Homo sapiens: one gene and its partner. Each later gene encodes a partner of the first gene's protein in a complex. Each region holds a gene or a part of one and is shown on either strand. Other genes may lie near its edges. A codon is read from its position in the direction of its gene.

What was found.
Region 2: the proteins of DENND1B (region 1) and RAB35 are in contact, whole or in part, in a crystal structure (PDB 3TW8), measured with the Homo sapiens proteins. Residues at the interface, in NP_001182144.1 of Homo sapiens: Met1 (codon at 7,643), Arg4 (codon at 7,652), Glu43, Ser47, Phe51, Val72, Leu73, Thr74, Asp75, Ile76, Glu77, Ser78, His211, Glu212, Arg213, Arg214, Gln242, His243, Ile244, Ile246, Leu249, His252, Leu253, Asp255, Tyr256, Cys258, Ala259, Pro260, Met261, Pro262; in NP_006852.1 of Homo sapiens: Lys10 (codon at 5,302), Leu12 (codon at 5,296), Ser17 (codon at 5,281), Ser36, Tyr37, Ile38, Thr39, Thr40, Ile41, Gly42, Val43, Asp44, Phe45, Gln60, Trp62, Thr64, Ala65, Gly66, Arg69, Phe70, Arg71, Thr72, Ile73, Thr74, Ser75, Thr76, Tyr77, Arg79, Gly80, Thr81.

Annotation. Positions count from the first base shown.
Region 1 is NC_000001.11:197,769,933-197,782,797, reverse strand, and holds the start of DENND1B (DENN domain-containing protein 1B), read left to right. Parts: upstream 1-7,317; 5' UTR 7,318-7,642; coding exon 7,643-7,659; intron 7,660-7,719; exon of another isoform or gene 7,720-8,150; coding exon of another isoform or gene 8,151-8,311; intron 8,312-9,865; coding exon 9,866-9,930; intron 9,931-12,865. UniProt on the Homo sapiens protein: Guanine nucleotide exchange factor (GEF) for RAB35 that acts as a regulator of T-cell receptor (TCR) internalization in TH2 cells. Acts by promoting the exchange of GDP to GTP, converting inactive GDP-bound RAB35 into its active GTP-bound form.
Region 2 is NC_000012.12:120,111,322-120,123,170, forward strand, and holds the start of RAB35 (ras-related protein Rab-35), read right to left. Parts: upstream 5,433-11,849; 5' UTR 5,330-5,432; coding exon 5,278-5,329; intron 1-5,277. UniProt on the Homo sapiens protein: The small GTPases Rab are key regulators of intracellular membrane trafficking, from the formation of transport vesicles to their fusion with membranes.

The DNA of each region.
Region 1 (12,865 bases):
CTTGGGTCTGTGACATCAGAAACAACAGCAGAGAGAAAGATGATGTCCATACTTTTGAAGCCCAGAAGAACTCTCAGTCCTTGTTCATTTTTATCTTGTTATAATTTGCAATAGTAAGAGATGGGGAGAGTTTGTCATCTGTTTTGGAGTTACAAGTCTCTGTTTCATATGAACTTGTGCTGTGGAATTATACCATTTGACCTGGTATTTGACTGAGTTCTATTTGCTGGAATGTTGCACTTTTCCCCTTCTAGAATTGATCATATACAAATGCATGTAATGTTTGGCTAGTTATTTTCTCATATTTTAGGAAAGCAAAACTTGGCACACAGCAATTTGTTTTGATAATCTCTCTATTTACGTTAGGATTAGGGTTGCTTATGGGGCTGCTGATTTTGTTGAACTATTATCATCATGTTAGATGATCATTTATGTTTCCTTCCAGAAAATTCTAATGACATTGCTCATTGGATGTGATTACTCATTCTCCTGAGAGTGTTAAATGGGTGTGAGCAGAGCTGCCATACAAGGAAGACTGTATTTACGTGGAGTATCTTGTAGGTGGGGTTGGGAAATTATTTCCCATGCAATGCCACATGGTTACACAAACACAGCACTCTTTCTTGAAGTCCAAAGGAGAATCCTCAAAGAATCTCTGAAGAAAATTTGACTCCACTGATTACCATCTGTTGGTGACACTCTGCTTCAATTATTCTTTGTTCTGAACTCCAAGGACTGTTTTAAGTTCTACAATGTCTGGCAGATTGAGGAACAAAGATAAGGGAGAACAAGCAGAAACTGGTCAGAGGTAAGAAAATTTATTTACAATTTTTGGCAAATCACCTGAAAAAGGCAGAAGAAGATCTTTTGCTGTGCTGTATTATTTTTGAGAATTTTACTGTATTTTCTTACTAAAAGTTTAACAGCAAGATATACAAATATCATCATCGACCCATTGAATTTTAGAAATATTTGGATATGTTCAGATTTGGTAGTAAAGGTGTCAAAATTTATCTGAGTTCTTTTGTCCACAAACTGGAAGACAACATTTTTATTAAACTGGATTTTAAATCAACATAGAATGCTAACTCTATGAGCTTTGAGGTGTGAAACAACTCAGAAAGGCAAACTTTCAGGGAAGATATTGATCCCGAATCCCCACCTCCATCTTCTCTTTATTTTAAAAGTATTTCACATGTCTTGTTGAGGGAGATTTTACCTTCAGATTGAAATTCATGATATTGCTGCTAAGTATAAAAAGGACAACATGCCAGGAGGATGTTTTCCTTAACAACACTATCTCAGTCAATATTAAAAGGCAGGTCCTGATAAAATAATTTAAAGATAGTTTCCTAAGAGCTTCAATAAATTCAGTTTGTTAAATACTTTATAACTTTTCTTCTATAATAAATGAAGGTGGTAATACTATTAATAAATTTCACCTAAGAATAGTAATAAGAGGTTGTGCAGAGTTAGTCTAGGAAATGCCTGACTTGGATACATGTTAGCTACAACTCATGAGATGCTTGCCTCAAAAAATTCATTTCTAAGTTAATTGTTTGGAACTCAAAATCTTCATATACATTGGTGAGGCTTATGAGTCTAGTCGAGTTAATTTATACTGAACCTGAAGCATTATTAATAGTATTATTATTTTTAAAAATACCATTCTAGAGTTTACAATAGTGTTTATTATTTCGCATTCAGAAGGGAAAGGAGCTGTCAACTTTAGTAGTCCTGGGTATCAGTAACTCTTCACTTTTGTTTAAGGCATATTACTACAAGGATTCAATGAATAAGTGGTTGGGGTTGGGAAGCCAGGAGTTACCTTTCTAATTGTCATAGTACACTGGAAATCAGGGCAGTTGGCTCACTAAAAGCCCTGAACTTGGGTTTCTCTACACCATTAATATATAGGGATATATAAGTTGGGGACTTTTTGGACCTGGTTTGAGGAAAGTGGACCTTATTAGGTGGATTAAAAAGTTGCAATTAGTCCATTTTACATGACACTATAGTCAGAACCAAGTAATTATCCATTATAGTCTGATCAAAACTTGCATGAAAATCAACTAAAAATTCAGAATTAAGTATTTTTAAAAGCTTGCAATGCATTGAAGAGCAGGCAATCAAGTGAGAATACTTAGGGGTGGAGGATGGGGGACAAATAAAAGTAGCTACAAGAGCCACCTCTCTCTGTAATCCCAGCACTTTGGGAGGCCGAGGTGGGTGGATCACGAGGTCAAGAGATGGAGACCGTCCTGACCAACATGGTGAAACCCTGCCTCTACTAAAAATACAAAAATTAGCTAGGCGTGATGGCAGGTGCCTGTAGTTCCAGCTACTCGGGAGGCTGAGGCAGGAGAATTGCTTGAACCCAGGAGGTGGAGGTTGCAGTGAGCCAAGATCACGCCACTGCACTCCAGCCTGGCGACAGAGCGAGACTCCATCTCAAAAAAAAAAAAAAAAAGAAAAGCCACCTTTCATCTTCATCTTTAGGGTTTTTCCTAAGCTGGATGAACTGGAAGACCATGAACTGTTATCATGGTCTTATGGGTCTTCAGACCCTTCCTAATGTGGGAAATCCAACAGGATACTCTTCATAAAGCTGATACACCCCAAAGGTATTCAAGGACAATTGTCTCAAACAATGGAGCATAGTTAAGGGGAAAAAAGCTTCCCAGAGGATTCATAGCTACAAACCAGGTCTCACATGAATGGTCTGAAGAATTTCAAGCTGAGAATTTAGTGTTTATGTTTCTGAATTGCTAGTGATCCCAAGCATCTACCAGCAGTAAATTAATATCTTCTCCAGAGAACTCATTTTCATTTCAGCTGTCACTCAATTTCTATATATAAAGTTCTAAGGATCACATAACATAAAAAGAAATCACATACATAGAAGAAATCAAGAGACCATAAGTATGAACAAGTAGAAAAAAGATCAGTTAGTAGAAGCAGACCCACAAATGCTTCAGATATTGGAATTTTTAGAAATAGAATTTAAAGTATATATATTAAATATTTTTAATAAATTAAAGAGATGCTGAAAATATGAGTTAAGAGAATACAGATTTGGAAAATAACCAAACAGAACTTTAGAAATAAAAATAATATAAATTAAAAACTAAATGGGTGACTTTGACAGAAAATGAGACAAAGCTGAAGAAAGAATTAGTGAACAGAATATTTTTGAAATTTTCCAGAATACAGCGTAGACAGATAAAGAGAGACATACTATAAAAGAGATGTTTGACAAACATGGAGGGTAGAATAACACATGTGTTATCAGAGTCCCAGAAGGAATGGAAAGAAAGGAGTCCAGAATTTTCCAGAACTGATGAAAGTCACCAATCCAGAGTCAAGAAAATTAAAGAAACCAAGAAACATGGATGAATAAAAATCTACACCTAGATACTTCACAGTGAAACTATAGAAAACTAAAGACAAAAATGAAACATCATAAATGCAGTCAGAGAGAAAAAACAGATGACATTTTAAGATTACTTTCAAAGTTCCAATTGTTATTAGGGAACTTAGAAGACAGTGTAATGATATTGATAACATGCAGAAAGAAATAATAGTAAACTTTGAATTCTTCATCAGTGAAAATATTTTTCAAGAGTGAGGGATAAATAAATACATTCCAACTCAAACAAAAAGGGAAAGAATTTTAGGCAGAAGGAAAGTGATCCTACACAGAAGATCTAAAATGAAAATACAAAAGAATGGTAAAGTTCTGAGTAAATCTAAACAAACATGGACTGTATAAAACAACATTCATAATGCATTTTTGGGGGGATTTTAGTTTTGAGGGGGTTTTAGAGGTTCTTGTATTGTTTGAGAGAGGGTGGATATCCTTGTGAACTCTGGCTTTAATCAGTTAAAATGTACCTATTAAAATTTCTAGGATAACTCCTAAATGAATAGAAACAGAGTAAATAACTTCCAAACTAGAAGAGGTGGGGGCAGAAATGAAAGCATAAATAGTAATCCTAAAGAATGCAAAAGTGAAAGAAAAAAACAGATCAGAAGAAACAAACGGGAAGTACAAAATTAGATGGCAGAAATAGATTTAAATTTATCAGCATTTTTCTCTCTTTTTTTTTTTTAATTTTTTTTAGACAGTGTCTCACTCTGTCAACCAGGCTGCAATGCAGCGGCATGATCTTGGCTCACTGCAACCTCTGCCTCCCAGGTTCAAGTGATTCTGAAGCCTCAGCCTCCTTATTATCTGGGACTACAGGCTTGCACCACCCACCACACCCAGCTAATTTTTGTATTTTTAGCAGACAGGGTTTCACCAAGTTGGCCAGGCTGGTCTTGAACTCCTGGCCTCAACTAATCTACCCGCCTTAGCCTCCCAAAGTGATGGGATGACAGGCATGAGCCACTGCGCCCAGCCTAAATTTATCAACAGTTTTAATACATGCAAATTGTCTAGGGGTTTGATGTAAGAGCTAAAGATGATCAGACTAGATTAAAAATCAAGACTAAAAATTTTAGATAAATTTGAAACATGATGGTTTAGAAAGTTTGAATGTAAAAGGATGAAAAGAGATATCCTAACATCAGACAAATACTATTCAGAAGAAAACTGTTTAGAATCTAAGGCAAAAGTACGATTGGAGGTAAAGAAAGTAACAACATAATGATGAATGGTTGTATTTATTAGGTAGATATAGAAATTATAAACTGATGTGTATATTATTACACAGCCCCAAACTGTGTAAGGTAGAACCTGAAAGAACTATAGGCTGAAATAGAAAAATCTACCATCATGTTGGGATATTTAAACTCATCTCTCCCATTAATTGAATTATGTCAAGCAGATGCAAATTCAGTAATAGAAGATGTCAACAACACAATCATCGTATTTGATCATGGACATATATTTAGAACACTGTACCCCAAAGCTGCAGAATATATATTCTTTACAAACCACATACAACATTTAAGTCTTGAAACATTTAAAAAATTAACTAAATTAATTAATTAATAAGAAATTAATTAATAAATAAAGACCATGTTCTTTGACAACAATACAGACTATGTTCTTTGACTGGTATGGTCCTGAAAACTGTTAATATTAATTGTCGAGTAGGAAATATCATTGCTGAAATATGATCTTGGGAAGATTTAAGACTAATTTGAAGGTTTGCCCTTTGTACACTTCTCTATCAGTCATATGGGAAGTTCTATATGAAATGAGTATTACTAAAGTTATACCATCGATTTCATTAAAGCTATTACCAAGGTAAGTGTATGATATTTGTTTTCTAATTTTTTAACACCTCATGCATGTAGATCATGTACACCTATGTTCCTATCCCTTTTATTTCAGTAATAACAGAACAGATAAATCTCTTCATTATGGTCAGCCTAAAAGCTCACTTAAAAAGATTTGCTTTGGGATGCGAATGTGTAGTATTTCCCTCGATGTACTTAACATAAATGGAATGAAGAACAATTTTATACTGTTCAAGGGTATGACTGTCATTTAAAATAAAATCCCAACAATGGATGAGGAAAACAATTGTATTATTATCTCCTCACACCAAATTAAAAAGTCCTCAATATGGTCACCCCAAGTAGGGTTCCTTTCTTTGGAAATAATTAATTATAATGAAAGGAGAAGTTTGAGAAATTCAGTAACAGTTGGGGCAGAAGTGGCTTTTAGCTTACGAATTTTTTTTTTCAAGGCTTTGGAGTATGGTCACTTATGCAGAAAAATCTTTATTTGGGAAAAGAAAACTTATGTAGTATAGTTTGCCTAATTGTGAAACTGAAATTCACAGAATAATTTCTCAAAAGATAATACAAATTTGTAGCACCTGTTTTACTTGAACATCACACTGCTCATGTGATGTACAAGTAATAATTCCCATTTTACAAATGTAGGAACCGAGAAACTGAAGTGTCTCACCCCGAGTCAAGCTATGACAACACTTTATGATAAACACATTTTTTTTTTGTTTGTTTGTTTCCCAGTTATGGCCCGTCCTCATTTTTTACTAACAGGCCCATGGCTATACAATATTTCTGATCCTGTTGACCAAGTAGTACCCAATTTTGGCAAGAAAGTTTAAGGTTATATAACTGAGTGCAACTTCAGGTTCTCTGACTCTTGAGTTTTTTAATTCTTAAGACTCCTTTTCTGACTTTTATGTCTTATGACTCACACTACATTCATACCACATTTGGTTTCCTCTCATCATCTTAACTTCTGCATGAATAAAGTCTGAAGTAACCACCTTTTGGAAGAAACACTGTGGCTATGTGTCAAGGGTGGCAGTGTTAGCTGGGAGAAGGCCTTTCCCAGAAGATCTCTGTGTAAGAGCCTGGCCTTCCACAGTCATTTGAATGTCCATCATAAGACTTTTCTACCTGTCTTCTCAGTAGATCCTAAATATGAGACAGCAGAGGAGGGAGACAGGCAATATGAGGTAGAAGTAAATAATCAGCATCAGATAGACCTGGTGTGAACTCCAGCTTTGCCATTACTCCCTGGTTTCTTCATCTGTAAAATGCTGATGAAAGTATCTATCACACACCTATGACAAGTACTGGGTGAGAGTGCACATAACCTGCTTCACATGTGCTTTAGGGCTGTGTAAATCAGTCCCTCCCACGCTTATTCAGTGGTGCCCTCTCTGAACTCGCCTAAACTGCCAGACTATGAGGCCTGCGACTATGTACATGTGTTCAAAAGTTAGTCCTTGGTTATCACTGCAGTCTGTGGTATAGGAATGTCTGCCTCCCACATGCGCAGACAAGTGGGGCACTACCATTTGGCTACTTGACAGGGCTATTTAGCAGGTGCACATGTCTGAACATTCCTGAATCAGGAGGGGGTAGCTCTGGATTTCAGAGAGCTGTAAGCAGGCCACAGCTGGAGTGACGCAAGAGCCAGGGGCATCAACTTGAGCTCTGAATTTGTAGTATGAAATGAAAGGAACCCAAGTCCGTGTGTATGTGTGTGGAAAACACTGCAGGTCGAGGTACTTTTCCAGGTACTTCGCCCTTTGTGGGGTTGCAGCCCCGACGCCCTGGAATCTGGACTGGACCCAGAAAGGAAGCCGGTTTGGTTCATGCTGAGGACACAGGGGGCACCTTGCCTTTCTGGCTAGGTGGCAAAGCGGTACGTGGGCCATCCCAGCAGGCACTAGCGCTCCCCCTGCACCCTCTGGCCGCCCGGGCGCGGGGACCTGGCCCCCGCCTCCTCCACAGTCTCCGACTTGCGAGCCGCACGGCCCAGGTGAAGCCGCTGGGCGCGTCCCCGCGCGCCCCTTCCCCCTCCCGGCGACTTCCTGATTTGCAAGAAGGTGCAGGAGCCGCAGCGGGCGGCCCCGGTCGCAGGAACTGAGAGGCCTCAGCTTTGGTGGCGGCTACCGGCGGAGACGGGGGCGGCGGCCACGCCACCGCTGCTGTCACAGAAAGGCTCTGGTGGGTGGGGTGGGAGGCGGGGAAGTGCCGGGGGCGCAGCCGACATGGGCCCGCCGCCACGGCTGCTGTGAGCAGCCTCTTTCCCTGTGTGGCCGCCGGCGTGGGCGGGGACGGCGCGACCCTCGCGCGGCCGGGCTGCGGGCTTCCAGGCCAGCGCGCGGGGGCCGGACGGACAGCCCCACACCGACATGTAACCATGGACTGCAGGACCAAGTGAGTGGGGGGGCCCGGGCGCGTCGGGGGCGGGCGTCCCTCGGCGGCCCCTCCCAGGCCAGCTCGGCTCCTCCGCGCCTCCGCGCTCAACCGGCTCCCCGGGCGGCCGAGGTTGGCCGGGCGGGCTGGGGGTGCGGTCCGGCCCCCAAGCCTCTGGCCGGCCGGCGGGACGGCGCTAGGCCGCAAAGCCTGCCCGCCCTGCGTCCCCGGCCCTCCGTGGTTGGCGCGGCTCCTCCCGGAGAGGCCACTAGCGCCTTGTCGACGCCCGCCTTTCGGGGGACAGGGGAGGCCGGGCGGCCCCTGACACCGCCGCTGAGGGGTTCTCGTGCTTCCCCCGAGTGTGTCAGATGTGACTCTCCTGGGGCTGCCTGTGTGCGTGTGGTGTCCGGGAGGGAGTCAGCGTTGAGGTTAAGAGGTTATTATTCCGAGTGCTCTCTGAGCATTAAATATAACCGGTGTTTTCTTAAGTCCGTTTGTTACTTTTGTCTTGGATGTTTTCTTATGATTCTGCTTATAAAATTAGATTGGTCTCTGGTGTTTCTTTATGCAGCAACTGTAGATGCATGGTTCTTGCAAAACGGTATCCAATTAGAGGGTACTTTTATGTGTGTGCTAAAGTATTTATCAACGACTACTTTGCTCAGGAGATTAGGTAAAAAGCAATTTTAATAACGGTGGTGATTTTGTTTCTAGGTATCTTAGAGGCATGAGTTTTATATTTTTCTTCTGAAACTTAACTTTGGAAAGAATTCCTTTTTACTTCGCTTACCCACCCTTTACTATCTCCTTCTCAAAAAGTTTAAAATAATGCCATGTATATTTGTATTATTGTGAAAGGCCGTTTGAATTTCACAGAAGTAAAACTGAGTCAATATTTAACTTTTACACCTAAGAGAAATTCTAAAGAATATTAGGGAAAGAGGGAAATTATGTAATAGAATTATTTTCTTCAGTGTGTTTGACATCATGGTGGGCAGGGTAAGTGAGTAAAAATAGTATGCTTCTTGACATTAATTGTTTTAAGAGGGAGGAAGTCATCTGAGCCCAGATTATTCCCATTGAAACAAGTTAATAGCGGAAAGGCTAAAAAAATGTATATTTGCATGTTAATTTATATGTCTTGTCACTTCCTATGTTTCCAGATTCATATCTTATAAGAAAAGCTTCCAAAAAAAGAAATGCTTTTTTTTAAAGTCAGAGCTGGCATTCGTTTCTTGAAGGAAGTACATATTAAATACAGCCAATGTACAAAGGCACTAAGGTCTTGTTAGCAGGAATAACTGAGATATTAACACATTGGCCGTTGTGGTAACAGACTTAATCTTTTACCTTATGATGGAACGAGAGATTTAAACAGCAATGTTATGAAGAAAAAGTGTCTCAGTATATTTCAGTTCACTTTTTGAAATTTAACCAATGTTGCTTTGAAATTTTGCAAATATGGCAAGTTAGTAAAAAAGTCAATAACTTCTGAATTAAGCAAAGTAAACTTACAGTTTCTAGTGGGAAAATCTAACATGGAAGCAGATGGCTGGTTTCTCCAAAGATAATGGATAAAAAGAAGGCTTTTTATGTTGCTAGCCTTAGAGCTATGAATAGTTTGCTACTTTAAATATGCATAAGTACAGTAAATACATTTTAAGAAAAGTATATGCAACGTATCACATTCATGGAGCATTATCAATGTTTTATGGTGATCTAGAACTTGGCAGGTGGAACCATGTATTCATCATTTACACTTATATTGCAAGTCCTTTGGAGACAGCCTGAGAACCTGTGTCAAACTCTGTTGGCAGGGTATAATGACACTTAGGGACACTCTGGCTTTTAAATTTGATCCAATAAGATAAAACCAATACTTTGCATTTTTGTAGCACTTAGTACTTAATGAAGTACTTGCACATATGTTATTTGATTTATAATCCTCACTATTATTCTGTGAAGTGGACAAGGCACCTCATAGGTAAGGGAGAACAGTCTCAGCGTTTAAATGCTTTGCCCCAAGTTTCAGAATTCCTAAGTCTCAGCTCTTTTAAGTTGCTCAATTGAGAAAACAGTTTCATTGTTATTTCTACTATACTGTAGTAATACAGTCACGTGAAATGTATTGAGACAAAAACAAGATTAGTTTTAGAATTAAGAAAATACAAGTTTCATGGAGATGTTTATTTGTCATAGGAAATTAATTTAAACTTTTTCCTTTTAGGGCAAATCCAGACAGAACCTTTGACTTGGTGTTGAAAGTGAAATGTCATGCCTCTGAAAATGAAGGTATGTGTCTTCTGTGTTCTGTTATTTGACAAGGTCTCTTTTTTTTGGGACAAGATCTCATTCTGTTCCTCAGGCTGTGCAGTGGCATGATCAGGGCTCACCACAACCTCTCCTTCCCGGGTTCAGGTGATCCTCCCACCTCAGCCTCCCGAGTAGCTGGAGCTACCAATGCACACCACCATGCTCAGCTAATTTTTGTATATTTTTTTGTGGAGACAGGGTTCACCACGTTGCCCAGGCTGGTCTTGAACTCCTGGGCTCAAGTGATCCACCCACCTTGCCCTCCCAAATTGTTGGGATTACAGGCGTGAGCCACTGTGCCTGGCCTGTTCTGTTAATTCTTAAAATAATTGATTGAATCTGTCAAAGCAAGTGTTAATATTGTGGACTGCTGGAACATGGTAGTAATAGGAAAATAATACTACTAAATGTGTATTCTGCATTGAGTGTCTCAAGTTGCTGGTAATAAAATAGGTGTTAAGTCTTTGCCCTGGGATTGTAAAAATCATGAATGTTATCAGTGCAGCTTGAATTTCAGGTGTGTTGTTAAGCCCATATAACTTACAACTCAGCTTCACCATTCGTTGGTAAAGTTATCATTAGTTTTGGTGAAAGGGCGAATCTTTTCATTTTCTTTCATTTATGTTTGGAAATTTAGTGTCTTTTTTTAAACATTAGTGCACATTCTCCTGCTAGTACCAATGGAAACTACACCACTTCCCTTCTGATGTTTCCAGAACGCAGAATGCAGACTGAGTAGCCCCTTCTGTTGGATTTACTCCAATAGCACAGCACTTTTGCAGGGAGGTAAACGATAGTGTGAAATTACTTGGAAGGGTTTCAGCTGTCAGTTCCGTACAATTTCCTGAAAAGATGAGAGCATAATACTTTAATGTCATGATTTTCATCATTTCCCTCCACTTTTGTCATATTGTGTATTGTGCATATGTGTGGTAGGCGGCAGGGTTAGCAGACAAGAATAAGGAATTCTTTTCTTGCCTATTTTCTTTTAATGTGTTCTTGCATGGTATGTCTTTCTAGATACTTAAAGTATATGTCTTTACTTGCTGTGTGCTTAGACCCTGGATAGCATGATGATTAAGCATAGGGGTTTCGTGGAGACTGATTGGCCATCCTAAAGCCTTGGAGGAAAGTCTGCTGACAATTTTAGCTTCAGAAACTATCCAGCAATTACCTACTCTTAAGTAATTTGGAGCTGCACACCTTAAAATAGAGAAGCCCAACCCAGTTGTGGTGAAATGGGCATGGCTAATTTTAGTATGAAGTCACATATTGTTGGCTCCACCAGCCCTACTACTGTACTCCTGGTCTATCTGAACTGCAGCTGTGGTCAGGTTTGTCTATTGGCAAGGAGTGATCCTAGGTTGTAGGGAGCCTTTTCTAGTTGATGAAGTTATCTTTTATTGTCCTGTATGTAGTAAAGTTTGTCCATTTGCATTATTTTGAGCCCCAACCGGGTCCTCTTTGAAGAATGGATATATTAGGTAGAATGGATACTCAAATGGATACATTATGTTTTCAGCTCCAATTTAATTCTATTCTATAGTGGTTTATGATATAAGTTAATCTAAAAAATATCTACCACAACATTACCGAAGGTGCGTGAAGTAACGCTCATCTGATATTGCTTGTAAAGGCGTGGCACGGTGGCTCACGCCTATAATCCCAGCACTTTTGGAGGCCGAGGTGGACAGATCATCTGAGGCCAGGAGTTCGAGACCAGCCTGACCAATATGGTGAAACCCCATCTCTACTAAAAATACCAAAATTATGCAGGCATGGTGGCCTATGCCTGTGATCCCAGCTACTGGGGAGGCTGAGGCACGAGAATCAGTTGAACTGGGGTTGTGGAGGTTGCAGTGCGCCGAGATAGCACCACCACACTCCAGCCTTGGTGACCAAGTGAGACTCTGTCTCAAAAAAAAAAAAAAATCTATATAGATATATAGATATATTTATAGATACATATATTTATAGATATATATTTATAGATATATATTTATATATATTTATAGATATATATTTACATATATATTTATATATATATTTATAGATATATATTTATATATTTATAGATATATATTTATATATATTTATAGATATATATATTTATATATATTTATAGATATATATTTATATATTTATAGATATATATTTATAGATATGTATATTTATAGATATATATTTATAGATATATATTTATAGATATATATTTTTATATATATTTATAGATATATATACACACACACACACACAACAGGCTAATTTCACTTGGAAAATATGGATTCTCTAATTTTAAATGTGTATTAAAGTGATCTTGTTAAAAGATCAATTTGCCTTATATAACACCCAATCTATGCATGTGTCAGAGAGATTGTGGTCTTCTTATAAAGGCTTTTGAGTGGTTTACTCCCTTCTTCCTCTTTTTGCTCTTTTCCACTTTTCATGAGCTAGTTATTCCAGTTTGTATCTTCTACTTCTGCCCTGCTTTAATATTACACCTTGTCTTTTTGCTGTTGTTATTTAAATCACTACTTTTTAGAAACATCTTCATTTGTATTTTAACAGTTTATATCTAGCCTGGTAAAGTTGTAAATATGATAAATGGTTAAAGTAAATAATGTTGGCTTCTTTGTAGGTTGCAAATAATCCATTCTATATGGCTAAATGGCAGAAAATTCTAAAGATATTTTAAAAAACTAAACTCAGCCATGTAAGCAGCAGTAACCTTTCTTCTTTTATTATGACTTAAATAGTATGAATATGGCTAATATTTTAGGATCTAACAAGTAATAACTATAATCAGTAACTATAATAAATAACAAATGATAAATTAGTAGCTATAAATAATAAAATCAATAACTATAAGAGGGCTATAAAAGTAAATTTTTTTGCCAAATTGAGAGATTTATGT
Region 2 (11,849 bases), on another chromosome or scaffold:
ATCCCCTCCAGCTTGGCCTCTCCAGGTCCCCATACTGTCCCCAGGCGTCTCGGCAGAGCAGTTAAAAGCCACTAGGCTGGCCAGGCGCAGTGGCTCACACCCGTAATCCCAGCACTTTGGGAGGCCGAGGTGGGCAGATCACGAGGTCAAGAGATCGAGACCATCCTGGCCAACATGATGAACACCCCACCTCTAGTAAAAATACAAAAATTAGCCGGGCGTGGTGGTGCGTGCCTGTAATCCCAGCTACTCGGGAGGCTGAGGCAGGAGAATCGCCTGAACCCAGGAGGCGGAGGTTGCAGCGAACTGAGATCGTGTCACTGCACTCCAGCCTGGGCGACAGAGCGAGACTCCATCTCAAAAAAAAAAAGCCACTAGGCTGCAGAAAGACCACAACCATCACCACATTATCTGCTGCTTTGGACCTGACACCAACCTCTGACACTGCTCTCCCTTTGAGAGGAACAGAAACCCACCCCAAGAAACACTACCTCCTAAATATCCCTGGAAGAGGCTTCCTCGGAAACACAAGCTGCAGCCATTACCCCACACCATCAGTGTCAGGGCAGGAGCAGAGGGCACCCACCAACCTTCACCACAGCCACCCCCGAGGCTGCCCAAGGGCACATCAGCATGACCCCAACCAGTCCAGCCTGTCATTCTTTTTTTTTTTTTTTTAAATGGAGTCTCACTCTGTCGCCCAGGCTGGAGTACGGTGGCGCGATCTTGGCTGCAACCTCCACCTCCCAGATTCAAGCGATTCTCTTGCCTCAGCCTCCGGAGTAGCTGGGATTACAGGCGCCCGCCATCACGCCCAGCTAATTTTTTGTATTGTTTGTAGGGACAGGGTTTCACCACATTGGCCAAGCTGGTCTCGAGCTCCTGACCTCAAGTGATCCGCCTGCCTCGGCCTCCCAAAGTGCTGGGATTATAGGAGTGAGCTACTGCTCCCGGCCTTTTACCCCTGGCTGCTGTATCTGGTCCTCACCACGCAAGCCACACACATGTCTTCCCTTCCTCCTGCTCCTGCCTGGGCTATGGCCCCCTCACTCCTCTCTGCTTCAGTTCAACCTCTTGAAGAGCCCTGACCTTTCAGTGAACTGTTCTCGATATTTTTTTTTTTTTTTGAAACAGGATCTTGCTCTGTTGCTCAGGCTAAAGTGCAGCAGCGTGATCATAGCTCATTGCAGTCTCAACCTCCCAGACTCAAGAGATCCTCCCACCTCAGCCTCCCAAGTAGCTGAGACCACAGGCGTGCACCACCATGCCCTGCTAATTTTCTTCTTTTTGTTGAGACAGGGCCTCCCTATGTTGCCCAGGCTGGTCTCAAACTCTTGGGCTCAAGTGATCCTCCACCTCGGCCTCCCAAAGTGCTGGGATTACAGGTGTGAGCTACCGTGCCTGGACCTTTTTTTTTTTTTGAGACAGTGTCTCATTCTGTCACCCAGGCTGGAGTGCAGTTGTGTGATCCTAACTCCCTGTAACTTTGAACTCCTGGGTTAAAACAATCTTCCTGTCTCAGCCTCCCACATAGCTGGGACTATAGATGTGCACCACCACGCCCAACTGATTTTTTTTTTTTTTTTGAGATGAAGTCTCGCTCTTGTCCCCCAGGCTGGAGTACAGTGGCACGATCTCGGCTCACTGCAACATCCGCCTCCTGGGTTCAAATGATTCTCCTGCCTCAGCCTCCCGAGTAGCTGGGATTACAGGTGCGTACCACCACACCCAACTAATTTTTTGTGTTTTAAGTAGGGACAGGGTTTCACCATGTTGGCCAGGCTGGTCTCGAATTCCTGACCTCAGGTGATCTGCCCACCTCGGCCTCCCAAAGTGCTGGGATTACAGGTGTGAGCCACTGTGCCCGGCCTTTTTTTTTTTTTTTTTTTAAGAGATGGGGTCTCGCTATCACTATGTTGCTCTCACTATGGTCTCGAGTTCAAGTGTTCCTCCCGCCTCATCCTCCCAAAGCACTAGGACAAACTACTGCCCCCAGCCATGTTCTCAATTTTAAACCTGCCTCAGCCACCACCTCACTGTATAACCTCACACAAGTCACGCCCCCTCTCTGAGCCTCAATTTACTCATCTGTCAAGTGAAGGGCTAACTCCATCTCCAAATGAGGATGGCTGGCCTGAGGGATGCAGACGACATGCTGTTACAAATCAAAGCCAGTGTCAGAGAGTATAAGGGAAAGTATAGAAAATACAGAACTGGCCGGGCGCGGTGGCTCACGCCTGTAATCCCAGCACTTTGGGAGGCCGAGGCGGGCGGATCACGAGGTCAGGAGATAGAGACCATACTGGCTAAAATGGTGAAACCCTGTCTCTACTAAAAATACAAAAGATTAGCCGGGCATGGTGGTGGGCACCTGTAGTCCCACCTACTCGGGAGGCTGAGGCAGGAGAATGGCGTGAACCGGGGAGGTGGAGCCGGCAGTGAGCCGAGATCGCGCCACTGCACTCCAGCCTGGGCGACAGAGCGAGACTCCGTCTCAAAAAAAAAAAAAAGGAAAAAAAGAAAATATAGAACCTCCGGCATAACGAAGGGATGCAGAGATTGAGGGAATCCATTGCAGAAGCATCCACAATGTGCAGAGTGGGCAGAACTCTAGATTTATGAAGAAAGAAACCAGCATTCATGGAGGGCCTATTGTTTGCCAGCCCTGACATGAGCTGCTCGCACACGTATTAGCACTGAGATGCAGTGGCTCCCGGCTTTGCCCCTGCTGAGCTATGTGATTTGGGGCAAGTAAGTCACCTCCTCTGAGCCTCAGTTTCCTTTTTTTTAAGACGGAGTTTCATTCTTGTCGCCCAGGCTGGAGTGCAATAGTGCGATCTTGGTTCACTGCAACTTCCGCCTACCAGGTTCAAGCGATTCTCCTGCCTCAGTCTCCCAAGTAGCTGGGATTACAGGCACATTCCACCATGCCCGGCTACTTTTGTATTTTTAGTAGAGACGAGGTTTCATCATGTTGCCCAAGTTGGTCTCAAACTCCTGTCTTCAGGTGATCTGCCCGCCTTGGCCTCCCAAAGTGATGGGATTACAGGCGTGAGCCACCGCGCCCGGCCTTAAGCCTTAGTTTCCTTATTTGACAAATCACACAGGGGGCGGGTGAGAATAAGCGTCTGTGAAATCGTTCAACATATCTTAAGGAGGCATTCACACAAGGAGCCCAGTTCAGGGGAGTGTGTAATGTCAGTCTCTGGGCTCAGCTGCCAAAGCTTAGTCTGGACTTCCATGGCTACCATCTCCCAGCTTTGAGGATCTCAATGTCGGGAGAAATCAAAGAGCACAGCATCCATCTCCTCTGCACAACCTACGCCTACATGGCTGACCTAGGAGCTAGACCACATAAATCTCGACCCAATGAGTCTTCTCCCACACCTGACTTCGGAGAGAAAAATCAATTCATCACACAAAATGTACTGTGAGAAAGCGGGCCAAACCCATCCCCTGGGCTTTACAGAGGAGAAGAGCCAACAAGCTGCATCTTCCTGCTGAGTTTAGGCTTTTCACTGTTGGATATCAACGCAGAGGTCCAGATGTCTTGCAGAGGGATAAAGGCTCCTGACCACGGCGGGCTGTCACTCCAAAAAGAGAGAAATGGCCCCAGTGCCAGTCCCTCAGAACCCAGGCCAGGGCTGCAAGGAAATCATGTAAAGGAAGAAGCCTCAAGACCCTGAAGAATACCAAAGGCCATCTCCAAGAGAACACTCCAGAGCTTGCCTGGTTTCCCTTCATTCAAACCATAACCAGTCAGTACTCCACCTTTCTACCTCCTTCCCCAACCTCAGTTACTCTTCCATCTCCCTGGTTAGCCCCCAGCTTTCCCCCTTACCTCTCCCCTCCTCCAGCAACCACGGAAACCTCAGCCATCCTTCACCTGATCCAAACCACCAACCACATCTCCATCCAGCTTTAAAAGGGAGGCCAAAACCACCCACTTCCCTGACCTAGCTCTGACATCGCTACCCAACACTCCTACATCCCAAGTCATACCGCTCACTTGATTTGATCCCCTTTCCTTAACAGTCCATGGGCTCTACCACCAGCCTGGCCTCTGCCTCCAATCATAAGACATCCCTCCCCACACTCAGCTCAGGTCTGGTCTACAAACTGAGCATGCTCCCAAGACTCTTTCATGAACATCATATAACCCCAGCACCTCAGTTTCGCTCCCATAAACCTTCTGGGGCCTGCCTTCCTGACCTCTTGGTCACTCCATAAACCTGCTCACCTGCCACACTCCAAACAGCTCTAAAACCCTCCACCTTTTCCCAGAAACCAGTCTACCTTTTCGAAGGACACTTAATATTCATTAATTCCTTCTGCAAATATGTCTTAAGCATGTACTGGGTGCCAGGCACTGTTCTAGGCACTGGAGCTAGAGCAGTGATCAGAGCTAGGAGCCCTCAAGCAGTGTGTGTGTGTGGCCAAAGCACTTTTATAATTTTGGCTGTCCCATCCCCAGGACCCCTCTGTATATAGTAGTGTAACAGCAAACAGTGACAACTCACTATGTGCCAGGAGCTGTGAGCAACACTGCAGAATCTCACTTAATACTCACATCAACCCCATAAGGCAGATCCAACTATCATTCCATCTTACAGATGAGGAAACTGAACCACGCAGGGATATAATAATTCAGCAGGAATATGCCAGACCCTGTGCAAAGCCCTTTATCCGACTTACCTCATTTAAACCTCACGGCAATCCCATGAGGCAGGTTCTGAGAACGTCCTCATTTTAGATGGGAAGAAACTGACGCTTATAAAGGATACTGATGATAATGACAATAGTGAACATTTACTTCGAGCTTACTTTACCGGGTAGGGCGCTACGCACTTTTCCTACTTTATCCCATCGAATCCTCACACCACCCAGCAAGGCACATCCCCACTTCTCAGATGAGGGAACTGAGGCTCAGGACGGCGAAGCAACTTGCCCAAGGTCAGCGCGAGGCAGGTGGTAGTCCTGAGACTCGAACCCACGTCTCTCCAACTCCAGAGATCGCGCGACTTGACCAAGGTCACACGTGAGGCAGGAACAGGCGCGATGACTGGACCCGGCGCGCTTGGCCCCTCCGCCCCGCGCCCCAACCTCCCCTCGGCGCGGTCCGGAGCCCCTCGGCGCACCCCTGGGGCCCAGACCGCCGGGCTGCCCCGCCCGCCCGCCCCGCACGGGCCGGCACCTCCCCGCCCGCCTGCCGCCCCGAGGCCCCCGCGGGCCGCGCCCGGCAGGGCCCGCGCCGCCTCCGGCCGCTGCGGCCCTCACCGCTGTCGCCGATGATGAGCAGCTTGAAGAGGTGGTCGTAGTCCCGGGCCATGGCGGGCGGGGGCGGTGCGCGCGGGCGGGCGGGGTCGGTACTGGCCTCGCGATCCGCAGCTCCCTTCGGGCTGCTCCGGCAGCGGCGGATCCACTTCCCGAACAAACAGCCGGAACTGACAGAAACACCTCCCTCCGCTCCCCCTCCTCCTCCTCAGCAGCCGCCGCCGCTACCACCGCCTCCCTCCTTCCCGCCCCGCCCCACCACTGCGCAGGCGCAGCGTCTGGCACCGCCTTGCGCAGCCGCAGCCTGAGCCGGCCGCGCCCGGGTCGCGCACGCGCCCTGACGGAGTCCCAGCAAGCGCGGGCCCGTCTTCCTCGCGTCTCCTCGGGGAGCGTCGTCGCCGCCACCCTGGGCGCTGAGAGCTTGCGGAGCCGAGCCGCTGTCGAGTCCCAGCGGAAAGAAGCCCAAGGTGCCGGAGAAGCCCGGTCGTGGACGTTGTTGCTCCCTCATCTTCGAGACCCGCACGCCCTGCGGAGAGGAAATGACAGGCACGCCGCGACCGTGGGGCGGGGCTCGCACGAGCTCCGGGTTTCCAGAGGCAGGGGCCGGGGCCGTAGAAGGCAGAGTCGCGCGGGGAAGGCCCGGTACCCCGCCCCTTCCGCACCGACCCCTCCCCCGCGGAGCTGGCCCCGGCCCCGGGCCTGTGGAGTGGACGCCGAGGGCGGCGGGCGGCTTCCGAGTTGGACAGAACGGGAGCTGCCGGCGGGAGCAGAGCTGCGAGGAGGTGGCCTTTGAGGGCAGCGCGGGGTCGAAATCCCATCCCAGCGCTGTGACCTCTTGGAGCCCACATTGCCTCTTTGGTGGAGGGGAGGGAGTGGTCCAGCTCCGAGCCGAGCCTGGGAGCTGAATGACCCAGTGTGCAAGGCGCACCTCGGAGACCGAAAGCAACCGCTCCCCCGGCTTCAATTTCACACCACCTGCAGATACACGTCTCAGAATCTGCGGCTAGGAAGACCTGGGCCGCCAGAAGCTAAACGTGTGCATTTTGTCATCAGCCCCGGTTTCTCGTTTTAGAGTGAGTTCCCACCTGCCCTACCTAAACTGACCTGAAACGGAAAGTTGTATGCCCCCACGACCATCCTCACTGCAGAACTGCAGAGGGTTTTAAGCTCCTTATTACCTGTTTCTTATAATCCTGTCCCTTTCCAGGCGAGTATTTATCGGATAGTTCTACTTGTTTTATCAAACTTCCTTTTCTTTTGACTTTATAAAAAGCAATGCCGGGAGGCTGAGGCGGGAGAATCGCTTGAACCCGGGAGGCGGAGGTTGCAGTGAGCTGAGATCTCGCCATTGCACTCCATTCTGGGCAACAAGAGCGAAACTCCGTCTCAAAAAAAAAAAACAATGTTCGTCCTTAAAATTATGTGCAGAAGTTTACTGAAAAGTACAAGTTACTATTTTTCCTTCTGAAGCACTCCTCACAGGTAACCCCTGTTAGTTTCACAGGTAACCTTAAAATGCTTAACACATATTTGTTGAATGAATAAGTGCCCCCCAGTGAATTTCCTTTGCCTGTACAAACATATATGTACATACCTTGCTTTTTCTATTTAACAGTACACTTTTATCATTTAACATCTGCGTGGTATGGTACTCCATCCGATAACCATCGGATGTACTATTATTTAACCACTCCGCTATTAATAGACATTCATGCTGTTTATATTTTTTGGTTATAATAAACATTGTTGCAGGCGGGATCATTGAACAACACATGGAGTGTCTGACTCAAGCCTTGAGTTGTTTTTCCGGGAGCTGAGAATCAGTGTGGTGATATCGAAATAACATGAGCTTGGAATCTGAAGGTACTGGCTAGGGAGAAGAGCTGCTCATGTGCTCCCGATAGAAAGTCCCCCTTGGTCGGGAAGGTTAGGGCCATCCTCTGACTCAGCAGTTTTAGGAAATAGAGGGGGAGAAGGAAGGTATGTACCTTCCTTCCACCAGGGAGGCACGCCCAGCCCTAACCAGCCAGCGAGGCAGTAGGTCCTCCTAGCTCATCTTCACAACCTGGGCTGGTGTCGGGAAGACTTTCGTTCCAATGCTAGCTTTGGAATCCTGGCCTCCATCCCTTAAAAGCTTTGTGATCTTAGGTAAGTCACATCACACTATCTCAAAGCCCCCGTTTCCTCACAGAATGGTTGTTTTAGAGTTATGTTTGTAAATTACCTGGCACATGTAGGCATGTGACAGACTGTAACCAATGTTACTCAAGGTCATTTTGCACTGATTCATACTTTGAGCCATTTCCTACTGTAGACTCTAGCACACATTTTCAAGGCAGCTTCCTGATAATAAGGCTGTAGGATATTTTTGGGAAATAAATCCAAATTGGCCATTAAAACCAGATTCCTGACTTTGCCTGCATGTGTCATCTGGAAAGCAATCGGCATAAATTCCTTCATTTCTTTGGTAACTATTTAATGAGTGTTTATGTGCCACGGATTGCAGAGGTTATAAGAAGAGAGCCTTAGGCCGGGCGCTGTGGCTCACACCCATAATCCCAGCACTTTGGGAGGCTGAGGCGGGAGGATCACGAGGTCAGGAGTTCAAGACCAGCCTGGCCAAGATGGTGAAACCCCATCTCTACTAAAAATAAAAAAAATTAGCCGGGCACGATGGCAGGCGCCGGTAATCCCAGCTACTCGGGAGGCTAAGGCAGGAGAATCGCTTGAACCCGGGTGGCAGAGGTTGCCGAGATTGCACCACTGCACTCCAGCCTAGGCGACAGAGCAAGACTCCGTCTTAAAAAAAAAAAAAAAAAAAAAGGAACAGAGCCTTTTCTCACCAGTTCACAGCCTCATCAAGAGTTAAGACATACTCATGAGGAAATTGAAAGTATAAGACAATACAGTAGATAGAAAAGCTGTCAGATATGCAGTCTAGACTTCAGAGGAGGAAAGCTATAGCTTTTAGTTAGAATGATGGGGAGAAGATTTTATCATAAAGATGTCATGATGGCACTGGAATAGGAGAGCTTTGAGTGTCTATTTAGACAGTCCCTGTCACAGTCTATGAGAATCATCATTTGGCTTGGAGGGGAATTCCCTGCAGGCCAGGGTATGTGCCTGGCATCTCAAAATGAATCAGCACATTTTCTTCTGGAAACATTGTTAGACATTTATTTAAACTACAGTTCAGTGATGAGTTATGTTAAGCTTTCTTTCTCCTTCTCACTGTATACATATGTAAACTTGTGTGACCTAAAGGATCAGTGTGTCCAGTAATGGGAAACTTTGTTCCACTGCTCTGAACAGCTAACTTACAGATGAACTTTTGCAACACCACCTGTTTGCACATTAGAAACTATTAATACGATGAGGAGGCATTGAAAGTTTTTGAGCAAAGAGGCAATCTCAAAATATTTTAGTGAAGTAATCTGGCAGGGTGCAGGATGGATTTCAGCTGCAGAGCTTTAAAGGTTATTGCTGAAGCCTGGGTGTAAGGTAACAGCAGGGACAGATGCAAAAGACAATAAGCAAACTTATAAACTAGACAAAGCAGCTTCCAAAAAAAAAAATCACGTAATTTACCTGGTAACTGGATTCATCCTTAATTCAGTAAATATTAAGTGGCCGGGTGCAGTGGCTCACGCCTGTAATCCCAGCACTTTGGGAGGCCGAGGCGGGTGGATCATGAGGTCAGAAGATCAAGACCATCCTGGCTAACATGGTGAAACCCCATCTCTACTAAAAATACAAAAGAATTAGCTGGGTGTGGTGGCACACGCCCGTAGTCCCAGCTACTCGGGAGGCTGAGGCAGGAGAATCACTTGAACCTGGGAGGTGGAGGTTGCAGTGAGCCAAGATCGCATCATTGCACTCCAGCCTGGGTGACAGAGCGAGACTCCATCTCAAAAAAAAAAAAAAAAAAAAATTTGCACAGTTACTAGGTGTTAGGCACTGTAGTGGGCACAGAGGCTAGAACATGAACAAAACAAAGCTCCTGTCCTCACGGAGTTTACAGTTTAGTGGGGAACAAGTCATTCACTCATTCAACAAATACTTGAGGGCCTACTATGCCAGACATTGATCTACGAGCTGAGGATTCAGCAGTAAGTAAAATTTTAAAATCCCAGCTTTCATAGAGCTTATATTCTGATAGAGAATACAGGCACCAAGTATGTCCAAGGAGAAAAGTAAAGCAGGGAGCACGCTGAGGTTTGCAGAAGCAGGCAGTGGAGCCACAGAGGTGGCAGGAAGTTTGGCAGTGGATGACAAGAGAAACAATGCTTGGTGGTGAGAGCAGTGGGGCTCATGAAGTATTTTTCAGGATAGTGGAAGCAGAGGATTAGCAGCCAGGAAATAATAAGGAGTGAATATTTGGAGGGAAGATGAGCTAAGGGCGCTTCAAAGAGCTTTGGGAAGTAAAGTGTCACCAACCAGAAGGCTAAGTGGGTAAAGGAGAGGGGGACCTCAGGCCCTCAAGGGTAGCAGTGTCAGGGATGAAGATCAGTGCAGTGGAGGTTGGAGGGACCTGTGAAATCCATTATTTCAGACAGCAACATGGACTTCAAAGCTGCTGAGTGCTAGGTAGCAAGGGAGGGAACGTGTGCTGTGATCATCCAGGAAGGAAGCAGTGGGTGGTGAATCAGAACTCAGAGAAGGCAGGTAAACTGACCGACAGGGACTTTAAATTAGGAGCAAGATGGGGACCACTCAGCATACTGGTCCAAGAGGGAAGGAAGAGAGGATATGATATGATGCCTGGTGTCTCCCTCTGATGGAAGTGGAAACGGGCCCTTTCTCCCACACCTGCAAGCCTGATGCCACACCAAGAGACTTGGCAGTGGGCCTTGCCCTGCCCTGATGTAGCCCCCAGAAATCAAGTGAATGTAAGTTCCATGATTCCAGGGACCATCTCTTTATCTGTATCCTCTGGAGACCCAGTGCCTGGTAGGTGCTTGATACCTGTTGAATTAAAGTGAAGCCACACACACAGTGTGAGAGTTGGACAGAATGTCAGATACAATTAGTTGAACCCTCTCTTGAGTTCACTTTTTGGGGTGTGGGCCAAACTTGGGGTCTAACTCAGGGTCAGCTTCTTCCCCTGACTCCAAACCGTTTAGCAGGAATTTTCTCACTCAACCTTTATATTATTAAATCAGTGGTTTTGCAAGTGTAGTCTGAGGACCCGCAGGGCTCCCTAAGACCTTTTCAAAGGATCTTCAGAGTCAAAACATGTTCACAATACTAAGATGTGATTTGCCTTTTTCACTTTCATTTGCTTATGACTGTACAGTGTTTGCCAGAGCCTACATGACATGTGATACAACAGACCAAATGCAGAGCTGACATGCGAATCCAGACATTAGAAACCTAAAAAAATGTGGAACAATGCCACTTGAACAGTTTTGCTTTGTTGTTGTTGTTTGTTTTTGAGACTGAGTCTCTCTCTTGCCCAAGCTGGGAGTGCAGTGGTACGATCATGGCTCACTGCAGCCTTGACCTCCTGGACTGAAGTGAACCTCCCACCTCAGCTTCCTGAGTAGCTGGGACTGCAGGTGTACACACCACCACACCACTATGCCTGGCTTTTTTTTTTTCTTTTGAGACAGAGTCTTGCTCTGTCACTCAGGTGGGAGCTGGAGTGCTGTGGCATGATCTCGGCTCACTGCATCCTCCACCTCCTGGGTTCAAGTAATTCTCCTGCCTCAGCCTCCCGAGTAGCTGGGATTACAGGTATATGCCACCATGCCCAGCTAATATTTATGTTGTTTAAGTAGAGACGGGGTTTTGCCATGTTGGTCAGGCTGGTCTCAAACTCCTGACCTCAGGTGATCTACCCACCTCAGCCTCTGAAAGTGCTGGGATTACAGGTGTGAGCCACTGCGTCTGGCTGCTATTTTTTTTTTTTTTAATTTTTAAATTTTTTGTAGAGACAACAGTCTCACTATGTTGCCCAAGCTGGTCTTGAACTCCTGGCCTCAAGCCATCCTCCCACCTCAGCCTCCCAAAGTGTTGGGATTACAGGCATGAGCCACTGTGCCTAGCCTGGTTTTGACTCCTAAGATGCTAAATATCAATAGGTAAGATAGGTATACACAAGAGCTCTTTGGTGTCCTCAAAAAAATTTCAAAATATAAAAGGATCCCGGCTGGGCACAGTGACAAACACCTGTAATCCCAGCACTTCGGAAGGCTGAGGAGGGAGGATGGCTCAAGGCCAGGAGTTCAAGACCAGCCTGGGCAACATAGTGAAACCCTCATCTCTACAAAAAAAATTTAAAAAATTAGCCAGGCTGGGCACGATGGCTCACACGTGTAATCCCAGCACTTTGGGAGGCCAAGGTAGGTGGATTACCTGAGGTCAGGGGTTCAAGACCAGCCTGACCGATATGGTGAAACCCCATCTCTACTAAAAATACAAAAAAAAAAAAAAATTAGCTGGGCATGGTGGCGGGCACCTGTAATCTCAGCTACTCTGGAGGCTGAGGCACAAGAATCACCTGAACCTGGGAGGCAGAGGCTGCGGTGAGCCAAGATCACGCCACTGCACTCCAGCCTGGGCGACAGAGTGAG